Regions from separate parts of the Homo sapiens genome. Here all the other regions are linked to region 2. The links come from fine-mapping of genetic effects on gene expression. A gene starts in region 2. Each other region holds a variant in brackets. All regions are shown on one strand. Distances are between the middles of the regions.

The links. PIP is the estimated chance that this variant, and not a neighbour inherited with it, causes the effect.
Region 1: its variant is the best candidate, but not a certain one, in a credible set for the expression of RALY in whole blood (INTERVAL, PIP 0.51).
Region 3: its variant is the best candidate, but not a certain one, in a credible set for the expression of RALY in whole blood (TOPMed, PIP 0.59).

Annotation. Positions count from the first base shown.
Region 1 is chr20:34,122,375-34,125,129 of GRCh38, forward strand. It overlaps the pseudogene RPS2P1. Among named protein-coding and RNA genes, the nearest start is that of EIF2S2, 12 kb to the left of the region's middle. RefSeq lists a silencer at 2,320-2,389. The variant G/A (reference allele first, on the strand shown) is at 1,597.
Region 2 is chr20:33,992,906-33,995,660 of GRCh38, forward strand. It overlaps RALY (RALY heterogeneous nuclear ribonucleoprotein), which reads left to right and starts at 1,006. Exons shown (of 10, transcript NM_016732.3): 1 at 1,006-1,226. RALY-AS1 (RALY antisense RNA 1) reads right to left here and starts at 1,462. Exons shown (of 2, transcript NR_109886.1): 1 at 1,300-1,462. RefSeq lists an enhancer at 1-449 and silencers at 227-476, 647-756, 937-1,066, 1,127-1,176, 1,397-1,726.
Region 3 is chr20:34,656,927-34,659,681 of GRCh38, forward strand. It overlaps PIGU (phosphatidylinositol glycan anchor biosynthesis class U), which reads right to left. Exons shown (of 12, transcript NM_080476.5): 2 at 254-318. Among named protein-coding and RNA genes, the nearest start is that of PIGU, 19 kb to the right of the region's middle. The variant G/A (reference allele first, on the strand shown) is at 1,073.

The DNA of each region.
Region 1 (2,755 bases), 130 kb after region 2:
TGACGCCTGTGCAGGGGGCGGCAGGGCGTGGGGTGCGGAGGTCGGGTGGAGGCCGGGCGGAGGCCGGGCGGAGGCCCCCGCAAGCCCTGGGAGGGATGGGGAACCGCGGTGGCTTCCGCGGAGGTTTCGGCGGTGGCATCCGGGGCCAGGGTCATGGCCGTGGACTGGGCCGGAGCCGAGGCCATGGAGCTCGCAGAGGCAAGGCCGAGGATAAGGAGTAGATGCCCGTCACCAAGCTGGGCCACCTGGTCAAGGACATGAAGATCAAGTACCTGGAGGATGTCTCTTCTCCCTGCCCATCAAGGAATCTGAGACCATTGACTTTTTTCTGGGGTCCTCTCTCAAGGAAGAGGGTTTGAAGATTATGCCGGTGCAGAAGCAGACCCGCGCGGGCCAGCGCACCAGGTTCAAGGCGTTTGTTGCCACCGGGGACTACAATGGCCACGTCGGTCTGTGCGTTAAGTGCTCCAAGGAGGTGGCTACTGCCATCCGCGGGTCCGTCATCCTGACCAAGCACTCCATTGTCCCCGTGCGCAGAGGCTACGGGGGAACAAGATGGACAAGCCCACACCGTCCCTTGCAAGGTGACAGGCCGCTGCGGCTCTGTGCTGGTGCACCTCATCCCTGCACCCAGGGGCACTGGCATCGTCTCCGCACCTGTGCCCAAGAAGCTCCTCATGATGGCTGGTATTGATGACTGCCACACCTCAGCCAGGGGCTGCACTGCCACCCTGGCAACTTCGCCAAGGCCACCTTTGACACCATCTCTAAGACCTACAGCTACCTGACCCTCGACCTCTGGAAGGAGACTATATTCACCAAGTCTCCCTATCAGGAATTCACTGACCACCTCGTCAAGACCCACACCAGAGTCTCCATGCAGAGGACCCAGGCTCCAGCTGTGGCTACAGCATAGGGTTTTTATACAAGAAAAACAAACTGAATTAAGCCTGAAAAAAAAAAAAAAAGCTGGTCTCAAATTAGGGGCCAACATGGAAGAATTAATATCTGTTGAGTACTTACTAAGTGTCAGGCCCTATAGATGTTACATGCATTATCTCATTTAATACTCAACAACAGCCTTGTCAGGTTAAAAGTATTATACCCATTTTATAAACAGGTTAATGAAGGCTCAGAGAGTGTCAGTCACTTACCCAACATAACCCAGTGAGTAACAGAGATGGAATTTGAGCCCAAGTCTGTGTGAATCTGAAGCCCATATTATTTCTACTATGTTACAGTGCCTCTGAAAATATATTTAACTGTGCCTACTTCTAATAGAGTTTATGATAAATGATATATATTTGATGTTTATATATTTATATCAATTATTTTACTTCATCATTACAAGTAAGATAGACTATCTAGGGATGATTATCACCACTTTACAGATGAGGAAACAGATGGTCAGAAAATTTAACTTACCTAGCTTCAGACCAGTAAATGATAATAACAGGGCTTGGACACATGTACCGCAACTCTCAGACTCCTACTTTTTCCACATTGGCCTATGAGAGTAGAATTTTATCTATATTTTACCTATGAATTTTCTTTTTTTTTTTTTTTTTTTTTTTGGAGACGGAGTCTTACTCTGTC[G/A]CCCAGGCTGGAGTGCAGTGGTGCAATCTTGACTCACTGCAACCTCTGTCCCCCAGCTTCAAGCGATTCTTCTGCCTCAGCCTCCCAAGTAGCTGGGAGGGATTACAGTCGCCTGCCACTGTGCCTGGCTAATTTTTGTATTTTTAGTAGAAATGGGGTTATATCATCTTGGCCAGGCTGATCTTGAACTCCTGACCTCATGATCTACTCGCCTTGGCCTCCCAAAGTGCTGGATTACAGGCGTGAGCCACCTCGCCCAGCCATATCTATGAATTTTCTGGTTCTAACTTTTTTTAATAGGAGCAAAGAGTGGACATCTTGACAGTCTTGCACTTCTGTTTATGCTTGGACAGATTAAACACATATGTTTATCCCTGTTCACTCCCCAAATCACTGAAGTGACAGTGAGTTAACATTTTTAGGTTTACCAGTCTACAGACAAAGAGAATAAGAAAGAAATCAATAGCAGATTAAGGATATCAACAAATTTTTGGAAGATGGAAAACCATAGCTGAGCTGAGAAAACAATTCTAAATGTTTGCTGAGGGTTATACTAACAAGGGACAAACAGATTCGTACTGCAGAACACTAGAATGTCAGGACTGGGACAGAGCAGATCAGAGGTGATGTGAGAGGCAGAAGAGAGAGGGTTTGGCTGAAAGCCTTTATAGGAAGTGAAACTGCCAGGTCTTTTTCTCCATCCTACTCACTTAGACAACTACCCTTTCATCTCCCTAGCAGCCCCTGGGACAAAATTGAGGTAGAGAAGTTCCAGACACTGAGATACCAGGCACAGCTAAAGATATAATAGCAGGGAGGCTAAGGTAGGAGGATTTCAGACTGAAAACAGAGATTAGATGAATTGTCTACATGCTGAATGGTGAAGCGCACTCAGTCCTCCTGCTGAAATTTATTCCAGGAATGCTGACAGCAAGGCTTGTATTCTCCAGGCAAGATATCAGGGAATTAATTTTAATTAATTAACCCCAGAGGAAAGATCTATACATACTGATATTTGAGGTCCCCCAACAAAACACCTAGGTACCCACTTTATCATCCTACAGATAAACTTCCTGTTAACACAGAGCTTCCAAATACTTAGTGACTCACTCTTAAATATGAAGAGACAACAAAGGGTCACCAGATATTTAAGATAAAC
Region 2 (2,755 bases):
CTGAAAGTGAGAAATCCCGACAGGAGAAATGTGTAGGAGAGAGGACTAGCACCTGGATCAAGTTATAAAACATCTCCTGCATCTTTTTCGGAGATCACCCTTAGCGCGGCCTCTCCGCCCAGTCCCAGATTAGGCAGCGAAGAGCGACCCTCACCTTGTCTAGGTGGCACGTTCCTTAAAAGCGAAAGGACCAGGAGTTTCTTCCTGCCTCGTCTCTTCCGGATCCCTCCTGCACCGCCCACAGCCTGCAGATTTGAGCGCCATCTCCAGGCCCCGCCCACCTCAAGCACCACCCCTCAGTCCTTCCTTGGGGCACGCCTCCTTCCGGCACCCGCCCAGAGTAGCCACCCCCGGGGCCCCTCCTCCCCTCCCTGCTTCCGGGCCCGCCTCCTTCAGGCCCGCTTCCATCTTCCTCCCACTCTAAGCTTCTCTTCAGCCCCGCCTCCCTCCACCCGTGGCTCCGCCCTCTGGGCGATTCTCCATTTAGCCCCGCCCACAGCATCTCCTTTCAAGCGCTGTCCTGGTTCCCGGCTCTCCATCTCCTGCACGGCCTTCCCCACTGGTCCGGCGACCCTCTTCCCAGGGCCTCATCACCATCTTAGCTCCGCCCCTACTTCGGCTCCAAACCTGTGCAAGCTGCCCTCTTCCCGCCCCAGCCCCGCCTCCCCAAGCCGCGTCTCAGTCCCTCCTCCCTTTCAGGCCCCACCCTGGCCCCGCCTTCCTCCCGTCCCCGCCGAAGCTCTGGACCTTTCCAAAGCCAGGCTGAGAGGGTGGGGAGAGCCCATGCGCCTGGGAAGCCGGGCTGTTTCTGGGCGGGGCTGCAGACTCCTCGTGCTCGTGTCACCGTGTCCTTCCCAGGAGACAGAGAAGGAGGAGAGCCCGGAACCAGGGCCGGAGCGGCGGGCGGAGCCGAGCTGCGGGGAGCCGCTCCGGGTGCCCCCACCCCCGCGCGCCTCAGTGGTGCCGGCCGAGGGCAGGGCTCGCGGTTGCGGGGCTCGCGCCGCTGTCAGTGCGGCGGGGCGCGCGAGCGGCGCCAGCTCGGGGCAGCGGAACCCAGAGAAGCTGAGGGGGCGGTAGCGGCGGCGACGGCGACGACGACGACTCCCGCGCGTGTGCCCAGCCTCTTCCCGCCGCAGCCGCCCTTTTCCTCCCTCCCTTACGTCCCCGAGTGCGGCAGTACCGCCTCCTTCCCAGCCGCGCGGCTTCCTCCAGACCTCTCGGCGCGGGTGAGTGGGGACTGCGGGCGTCTCCTTAGGGGTGCGGGGAGGGTGTGTGCTTTGTGCCTTTCCGTTCACTCACTTCTTCCGGCAGGCCGCTGCCTATTTTTAGAAACTTATTTCTGCCCTTCGGGGAGTCCCGGGAGCCCGAGTAACTCTAGGCCCCCTCCGCCGCTCCTTTCTCCCACTCGGACCCGCCGCCCCGGGTCCCCGGCCCCAGCCCTCCGCGCCCGGTCCTGCTCCCGGCGTTCCCTGTCTGCTCTCTCCGCGGGCCAAGTCTGGGCCAGTAGTTGGCTGGGTGGGCCCGCGCCCGCTCGGAAGTTGGAGTCTTTTGTGCTCGTGCCCCGCCCCGCCCGGCGAGGGGCGGAGGGAGGGGAACGGAGGCTGCTCCGGGGAGGCCGCAGGCGGGCCCGGCCGCGGCTGCTTCCGGCTCTCCTAACCCGGACTGGGTCTACGGGCTCCCGGAGGCGCGCAGAGCTTGTCCTGCCTCGGCTCCCGCCTCTTCTGGGCTCTTTGCACGCCTTGGGCTCGGAGAGAAACAACAACGGGCCCTCGAACTGGGGCCGTATCCGCGTTTCACTCAGCCTCCTTGGCGGCCGAGTCTTAGTTTGCCTCTCGGTGACATGGGGGGAAAGAAGGAAACTCGCTTTGCGGGGTGTTCGTGGATTCAGGGAGGGAACTAATATGTGAAAGAAGTGTTTAACACCGACAGGGAACATTTAATGAGACTTCACCCAGGAACTTCCCAAGCCTTATTTCATTTAATGTTCACAACGGCCTTCTGGTTTATCCTCATTTACAAAAGCAGAAATTAAGGCGCAGAGGGGTCAAGTAATTTTCTCCAAGTCACAGTAGCCACAGAAGTGCAAAGGAGTGGTGCCAGTACCTATTATTTATTAATATTTCCTGGTGTGAGCATGTATCATCTCTTAGTGCAGAGGGTATTTTTACCTAGCCTTGGGTCACACCATTTAATTAGGGGCATAACTCTGGGTTTTCCCTGACTTCTGGGCCGTTGTCCACTATACTGTGGATGAAATCCCATTCTGGGGTTACCATAGTTCTAAAGGGAAAGGTTTGGATGAATTCCTTGCTAGTGTTGCGGCAGTTAGAAGTTGATGGATGCAGACTCCAGGTCTCAGACACAACTCAAATTCCCTGGGGTTTTGGCTCAAGGAAGCTTTGAGACTGTAAACGGTGGGATCCACCCTTTAGTTTGTGTGTGGTGTGTTCCTCCTCCCAGACCTTGCAGGTTCTCTGTGTTTAGATTTATCGATCCTAGTTTGATGGGGGTTAGGGGGAGTAGCTCAAGTCATCTGCCTTCAAACAAATATTACTCCTATTTTCAGATAAGGCCCAGAGTGGTTAAAGTGAACTAAAATTAACTTTGGCAAATGTTCCAGTTTTTCAATGTGATCCGGTTGGAGGGAGTGTCTAAAAATCAGGCAAGGGAGTTTCTGGGCCAGGTCTTGAGGAGTCTCTTGATGTTCACATTAGTTCTTTGGAGTCTGGTACGTCTGTGGTGCCTGGCCAGGATT
Region 3 (2,755 bases), 660 kb after region 2:
TTATTTGCCTTTACAAATGGTAACTTCTACAGAAGCCTCATCTGCTTCCCCAGTTACAATCTTAATCTGGATCATTTCCATTGCAATTGCAAAACCTCTTTCTTATGCAGAGGACATCTAAAAACGGGCTGTTTCTAAATATGATCGTCAAGAATACATCTTTTTAAATGTTTGTACAAAACAGAGGTTAGGCTTTGGTATCTGTGACTGTAAACTACTCTTGGTACCCAGAAAAGAAAATAAGAACACTTACTTCATGAAATACTGCTCCAGAATACGGAGATACTCCCAAGTCCAACAGTGAAAGGCCTTCAACCACTGAAAAATTAGATATACAAGTTCACTCAGACTAAGCAGGCAGCTACAGACCAAATTGTTAGATACCCCCACAACCAAAAAGGGCCTTAGCGTTTATCTAACCCCCTTTACCTCATCCCCAGCAAGTGGCTTTAAGTCTTGAACATTTCTGATGACGGGAAACTCTCTTTCATGGACAGCATCCTTTTTCATTGTGGGCAGCACTCATTATAAGACAGTTTTATGTTAAACTATCTGCTTCCTTTTAGTTCCTTGTAACTCTTACCAACTCTCAAAAATGTCTCATTTATGCCTAATCTTCCCCATTCCAAAGCACAATAAGATAACAAATTAGAAGCTGGTGAGAAATGTTGCCATAGTGTGAGGAAATGGGCAGTCACTCTCATATGCTGCTCATTTGAGTGACATTTGTATTAACTTTTCGACAGGGCAATATGTGCTTTCTAAGTGTGTGCCTTCTGACCCAGATATGATACTTCTTAGGGCAGTTTATCCTATGGAAATAACCTGACAAGTACCCAAAGAGGTATGTTCCTTACACTGTTCAGAGTACTGAACAATTAGAAATAATCTGAATGTCCATTAATGAAAATTTATTTCAATGAATTATGACATAATATATATCTCTATATAATGGAATGCTTTATACTTAAAATTATACTGTGTTATAAATAATAAATAACCTCTCCCTCTCCCTCTCCCTCACCCTCTCCCTCTCTCTCTCTCCACGGTCTCCCTCTCCCTCTCTTTCCAC[G/A]GTCTCCCTCTCCCTCTCTTTCCACGGTCTCCCTCTGATGCCGAGCCGAAGCTGGACTGTACTGCTGCCATCTCGGCTCACTGCAACCTCCCTGCCTGATTCTCCTGCCTCAGCCTGCCCAGTGCCTGCGATTGCAGGCGCGCGCCGCCACGCCTGACTGGTTTTCGTATTTTTTTGGTGGAGACGGGGTTTCGCTGTGTTGGCCGGGCCGGTCTCCAGCTCCTAACCGCGAGTGATCCGCCAACCTCGGCCTCCCGAGGTGCCGGGATTGCAGACGGAGTCTCGTTCACTCAGTGCTCAGTGGTGCCCAGGCTGGAGTGCAGTGGCGTGATCTCGGCTCGCTACAACCTCCACCTCCCAGCCACCTGCCTTGGCCTCCCAAAGTGCCGAGATTGCAGCCTCTGCCCGGCCGCCACCCCGTCTGGGAAGTGAGGAGCATCTCTGCCTGGCCGCCCATCATCTGGGATGTGAGGAGCCCCTCTGCCTGGCTGCCCAGTCTGGAAAGTGAGGAGCCTCTCTGCCCAGCCGCCATCCCATCTAGGAAGTGAGGAGCGTCTCTGCCCGGCCGCCCATCGTCTGAGATGTGGGCAGTGCCTCTGCCCCACCGCCCCGTCTGGGATGTGAGGAGCGCCTCTGCCCAGCCGCGACCCCATCTGGGAGGTGAGGAGCGTCTCTGCCCAGCCGCCCCGTCTGAGAAGTGAGGAGACCCTCTGCCTGACAACCGCCCCGTCTGAGAAGTGAGGAGCCCCTCCGCCCGGCAGCCGCCCCGTCTGAGAAGTGAGGAGCCCCTCCGCCTGGCAGCCGCCCCGTCTGAGAAGCGAGGAGCCCCTCCGCCCGGCAGCCACCCCGTCTGGGAAGTGAGGAGCATCTCCGCCCGGCAGCCACCCCGTCCAGGAGGGAGGTGGGGGTCAACCCCCGCCAGGCCAGCCGCCCCGTCCGGGAGGGAGGCGGAGGGGTCAGCCCCCCGCCCAGCCAGCCGCCCCGTCCGGGAGGTGAGGGGCGCCTCTGCCCGGCCACCCCCTACTGGGAAGTGAGGAGCCCCTCTGCCCGGCCAGCTGCCCCGTCCGGGAGGGAGGTGGGGGGGTCAGCCCCCCACCCGGCCAGCCGCCCCGTCCGGGAGGTGAGGGGCGCCTCTGCCCGGCTGCCCCTACTGGGAAGTGAGGAGCCCCTCTGCCCGGCCAGCCGCCCCGTCCAGGAGGGAGGTGGGGGGGTCAGCCCCCCGCCCGGCCAGCCGCCCCGTCCGGGAGGGAGGTGGGGGGGTCAGCCCCCCGCCCGGCCAGCCACCCCGTCCGGGAGGGAGGTGGGGGGGTCAGCCCCCCGCCCGGCCAGCCGCCCCGTCCGGGAGGTGAGGGGCGCCTCTGCCCGGCCGCCCCTACTGGGAAGTGAGGAGCCCCTCTGCCCGGCCAGCCGCCCGGTCCGGGAGGGAGGTGGGGGGGTCAGCCCCCGGCCCGGCCAGCCGCCCCGTCCGGGAGGTGAGGGGCGCCTCTGCCCGGCTGCCCCTACTGGGAAGTGAGGAGCCCCTCTGCCCAGCCACCACCCAGTCTTGGAGGTGTACCCAACAGCTCATTGAGAACGGGCCAGGATGACAATGGCGGTTTTGTGGAATAGAAAGGGGGGAAAGGTGGGGAAAAGATTGAGAAATCGGATGGTGGCCGTGTCTGTATAGAAAGAAGTAGACATGGG